Regions from separate parts of the Homo sapiens genome. Here region 2 is linked to region 1. The links come from fine-mapping of genetic effects on gene expression. Tissue or cell type: whole blood. Region 1 holds a variant in brackets; the other region holds the start of a gene. All regions are shown on one strand. Distances are from middle to middle.

What was found. PIP is the estimated chance that this variant, and not a neighbour inherited with it, causes the effect.
Region 2: it holds the start of COMTD1, and the variant in region 1 is fine-mapped to the expression of COMTD1 in whole blood (TOPMed, PIP above 0.99).

Annotation. Positions count from the first base shown.
Region 1 is chr10:75,018,887-75,021,639 of GRCh38, forward strand. It overlaps KAT6B (lysine acetyltransferase 6B), which reads left to right. Exons shown (of 18, transcript NM_012330.4): 14 at 1,696-1,927; 15 at 2,240-2,399. Among named protein-coding and RNA genes, the nearest start is that of SNORD172, 1.5 kb to the right of the region's middle. The variant G/T (reference allele first, on the strand shown) is at 1,639.
Region 2 is chr10:75,234,484-75,237,110 of GRCh38, forward strand. COMTD1 (catechol-O-methyltransferase domain containing 1) reads right to left here and starts at 1,474. Exons shown (of 7, transcript NM_144589.4): 1 at 1,352-1,474; 2 at 1,133-1,260; 3 at 784-889; 4 at 577-695; 5 at 455-509; 6 at 127-260. The coding sequence starts at 1,445. RefSeq lists silencers at 203-432, 593-882, 1,013-1,092, 1,253-1,392, 1,428-1,722.

The DNA of each region.
Region 1 (2,753 bases):
GGAGTACAAAGCTGGGACCCCCCAGCCTCCTGGGTACGTTTCTCAGCATGTGCCAAGCACTTTGGAGGCAGGTGACGGATGTGCCAATTATCTGTATTCTGAGGTGTGGGCTCCCTTCATACTCTGGCAACACAGAGACGTAGAGAGCTCTTCTTCGTGTTGACAGGACACAATATGGGCTGGCTTCGGCACAGTGGCCATCACTGTGTTAGCATTCCTGACACACTGCTATTGAAAGCCCCAATCTGCTGCCAAATTACATGTAGACAGTGGTTTCACTGTAAAATGTTGCGGTGCTTGTTTGCATTCAGTCAAATACTTTGCACTTAAACATGGGTTAAAGAGACAAATAAGTCAAAAGACCTTAGCAAAACCTGAAGTTAAATTTACGCCTATTCTTCATAATGGCATTCAGATTAAAGCCATCAAAATGCAAAATGCTGTGATTATACCCTTCGAGGGTTCAGGCTGGATTCTTGTTTTGTATTTCTGCATTACTGTATTTGCAGTGATTTTGAGATGCAGGAAAATGCATCAGAGGCATTGATTTCTTCTTTAACAAAAAATAACCCTAAAATTGAGAAAATTCTTGAGAATGCAGCCATTTTGGAAATGTAGATAAAGAAGAAAAATGCTGAAGATTTGGGTGGTTTATGGAGCCGTATGATTTTGTCATTGCTGCCACCTACTGTATGTGGTTGATGTTTGTTTAAACTTAGGAAGTTCATGAAGGTGAGGCTGTTGAAATAGATAATTAGAGCAAGGTAGACATCATTAGCTTATAGCATTTCTTTTCTACCCCATAAGTGGCTCTTAATTACTGAGACAGCCGCCAGCTTTCATTCATTACCTTCAAGTGGATTTAAAGGGCTGGTTTCTTTTTTTTTTTTTTTTTCCATTTTTAAAGTTCCTTTGCCAAGGAACCTTCACAGTAATGCTGTAAAATGCGTTCAAAAGCTTAAGATGCTGGGGGATTTTCTGAGCATACATGCAATAGGTTGTTTTAAGGAGTTTGTTTTGTTTTGTCTTAATTTGTAGGAGCAATATTCTGGGATTGGATTGTAAATTAATTTCTATGAAAGAGGTGAAAATGGAGCTAGTGGAGCTGATGGGAGTTGCAGCAGTTGACTTGAAAGACATTCTTTTATTAGTCCTAAAACAAAGCTTCAGATCAACCTGCTAGTTAAATGTAACAAGCAATATAGACTCTGAGTCAACAGAGGTCCTTCTCTTTTTATTAAGACCCAGCTGTCAAAGGGTCATTAGGTCCTTCCTGTGGAAAACAACTTGCCCATTAATGTTGGGGGTGGTCCCTCGACAGGATTTCTGAGTAAGTGCCTGACATTTCGTTTTTGAAAGAATCTAAAGCTGTGGGAGACTTAGATGTTGAGACTTAGCAGGAGTAATGTCTTCAACCATAGCTTTTAGTCTTTGTTAAATATGTCACAATATGTGTTTGGAATGCTGCTGCTAGCTGCGTGAATTGACTTAGAGTGCCACTGTCAAAGATTCAGGAGCGTAAACTTCACGGAGATCAAATCACTATAACTGGGAAGAGGCTACATTCCTAAAGCGAATGCACTTCTCTGTTGTGATGTTTTTACCTTGTCACTACTCATATTATTTCTAGTGGCTCCT[G/T]TTCTAAGCTCTGGGAATGCCACAGTGAGGAATGCCCATTTATTTTTTCTGCCCTAGGCTATTTGCTTTCTAGAAGAGAAGGCCAAGCAGGGTCTCCTGAAAAGCCTCTCTCCGATCTGGGCCGTCTCTCCTACCTGGCATATTGGAAGAGCGTCATCTTGGAGTATCTCTACCACCACCATGAGAGGCACATCAGCATCAAGGCAATTAGCAGAGCGACGGGCATGTGCCCACATGACATTGCCACCACTCTGCAGCACCTCCACATGATCGACAAGAGAGATGGCAGGTGAGTCCTGGGACCCTGGGCAGCTCCGTGGCTCAGGCATCCCACACCAGAAAGGGTCCCTGGAGATAGGTGCATTCATTCCAGTTAAAGACTGAGGTTCCCTAACAGTATTATCAAACCTTTTCTCCTAAAAATAACACATGAAATGACACTTTTTTACTGGTTGGATTCCAGTGTTCTGTACCCTCTCATTGAGGTGCTTTCTGATTTTTCCTAACGCAGATAACATTAGTGCTAGCATATGTCCGTATGTGAAGCTGAAGTGAAATTTCAGCTTGTGATTACATCTTGTTCTGCCTTATCACATTACAGATTTGTCATCATTAGACGGGAAAAGTTGATATTGAGCCACATGGAAAAGCTGAAAACCTGTTCCAGAGCCAATGAACTTGATCCAGACAGTCTGAGGTGGACCCCAATTTTAATTTCTAATGCTGCAGTGTCTGAAGAAGAGCGAGAAGCTGAGAAAGAGGTAATGATTGTCTTTATCATCCTAAGTTGTGTAACTTCAATCTTGTAGCATTCTTAAGCTAAGAAAGTCATTAAGATCGTTGTCAAAAGCTTGGTTATGTAGAGATAGCATGTGAAATGATATGGCACTAATTTATCCTAACTGAGGTTGCATGGTAAGACATGATAATTTTATTGAATTGAGTATGAAAAATGAAACATTTATCATTGATTACAAAGCAGCATTTTTCACTACTGAGAGCATGTAATCAGATCAAATTCGGTGCTGAGCTCCAAGGCTGCAGTGTCAATTGATTCTTTGTGTTTATGAACTTGCTTAAAGTGCTCCTTGCCAGTGAGCATGTAATGTAGTGAT
Region 2 (2,627 bases), 220 kb after region 1:
CCCCGGAGGGGGTGTAGCCTACGTGACTGGACTGGGTGGGGCTTTGGGGTATAAGAGGAGTCAAGGGAAAAGATGGGGACCCGGCCCGACAGGGTGCTTTCTCCTCCCCCGCAGTGGATCCCTTACTCTGAGGACGGCGAGGATGCCTCCGGGTCGCAGCAGCTGCAGGCAGCGCTCGTAGTAGGCGGAGCAGTTCTCCTTGTCCGCATCCACCACGGCCACGTCGAAGGTGCCGGCCTCGCCCGCCGCCAGCAGCTCGTCTTGCGGGGGGAGGGAGGGCAGGTGCGGCTGAGTCCGCGGCCCCGGCGGCCCTGAGGCCCCTCCCAGGCCGGCCCGGGCTCTGTGACAACCGGCCCTGCCCTTAACCTGCCCGGCAGGCCCAGTCACAGCTCGGCCACACAGCAGCCTCGTTTGCAATGAATGGCTTCAAAGCCCTTCCCGCTTCGGTGCTCACCCAGGGTCTCCAAGGCGGGCTTCAGCCGGAGGTCGATCTTGTGCTCCGCCTCGGCCTGCGGAGGGAGCGGGTCAGCCGTTGCGCCCCCGCCTGGGGCTGCAGAGCTAGGCGCGGGCGCTCACCTGCCTCCACAGGGGCCGTCCCAGCTCCGGGGGCTGCGCGTCCACCTCGCAGGTCACCACGCGCCCGTCCGCGGGCAGCGCCAGGGCCAGGGCCAGGGCGGAGTAGCCCGTGAAGGTGCCTGGGACCAGGACACAGACGGGCTCAGCCCAGAGTGGGGGTCGGCCCGGAAACCTCGGCCCTCCGGGATCCCGGCCGCGTGCCCCTACCCAGGTCCAGCGCCTTCTTGGCCTGGATGAGCCGCGCCAGGTTGGCCAAGAGCTGGGCCTGCTCGCAGGTCATCATAGAATCCCCCTGCGGCTGCTCCAGGGTCAGCTGCGTGAAAGGAGAGGGTGGCACCAGCCATGCAGGTCACCCACCTTCGCCCTGGGGGTCCCAAGCCCCAGGGGCGCGGTTCTGGGCGTGGCCTGGGGGACTGGCCCTTCGGAACGCCCACCGCACCCGGCCCAGGGAAGCCGGAAGCCCAGGGAGGGCCAGGGCCCAGCCCAAGGTCACACAGCCACGTGGGACCCGCAGGGGTCGAGAGGGACGCCCGTTTCCGTCCCGCGCCCTGCTGACCAGCCTCAGGCTTCGCAGCGCCGGGTGCTCCCGCATGGAGCGGCTCAGAAGATACTGCCACAGGCGGCTGTCCTCGGGGGGAAGCAGGCACTGCTCTCGCCGGCCTCGCCATGGGGGGCACCGCCTCCCTGACGGGGAGAGGGTGTTGGATTAACCTGAGCCACGCCGCGCCCTACTCTGCGCCCGCCCACCCGCCCGCCGGGACCAGGTCCTGCTCACCCAGGAAGAGGCCAGTGGCGAAGGCGGCGCCCAGTGCGGCTGAGCCCAGGGCCAGCGCGGCGGGCACGGAGAGCCGGGGCACCGGCTGGGTCATGGCGCGGGCAGGAGGCGGCGGGAGGCAGTGACAGGTCACGTGAGCTGGAGCTCCTGGGACAGGTCTCGGACTCGCGGGCCCGCCGGGCTCCACCTTGTCGGGGCACTACCCGCGGAGCCGCGGTCTCGGGCATCATCTGGCGGCCACACAGCCTTACTGCAAGCCCCGCCCGAGAGAGCCGGGCGCGATCTGGTGGCCGCGCCGGGAACTGCGCCCCTGCGGGGAGCAGGCCAAGCGCCTAGATCTGAATTTTCCCGCCTGTGCCCGCAGTCCAGGTGCCTGCCTCCATTCCCCTCCTGCCAATGCTTTTTTCTCCTCGCCACCATTTATTCTGAGGCCCCTTGGGGGCATATGTGAATTGTGTATGGAGGGCGCCAGTGTAAGTTACAAGATAGTCACAAGTACAAGAGATAGAGATTAAAGGGGGAAGGCCTCCTGGACAAGATGCCCCAAAGCATCAGGCTGAAGGAGTGAGGGAACTGGTTTGAGGGCATGCAGCCTCGAATTGGGGTTCAGGAGCCCTGGGGTGGGCCTGTGGAACTGAGACCATATTCTTAGCTGTTAAAATCCTGCTTTTGGGGGCCAGATGGATACGAGTGTCTAATCTTGGTCCTGCCAGTCTCTCTGAGCCTCAGTTTCCTTCCTGTAAAATGAGGCCTACAATCTTACCATAAAAGGCACCAGATCCCACAGCTTCGCACACAGTAGCACAATACATAAGTGGCAGCTGCTGTTATGTTGGTAGGTTGGAATGAAGACATCTTGGGGAGAAAGCCGGTGAAGCTCCCTTGCAAGGTTGTTCTGTTGAAACACTGTCCAGAGAACACTGATTGAACCCCTACCATGCGCCAAACTCCGGAGGAGGTGAAAGACGCTGACGCTGTCCTTTTTTTTTTTTTTTTTGAGACTGAGTCTCGCTCTGTCACCCAGGCTGGAGTGCAGTGGCACAATCTGGTCTCACTGCAACCTCCACCTCCTGATTCAAGCGATTCTCCTGCCTCAGACTCTGGAGTAGCTGGGACTACAGGCACGCACCCCTACACCCAACTAATTTTTGTATTTTTTGTAGAGACGGGTTTTGCTATTTTGGCCAGGCTGGTGTCAGACTCCTGGCCTCAAGTGATCTGTTTGCCTCGTCCTTCCAAAGTGCTGGGATTACAGGCCTGAGCCATTGTGCCTGGC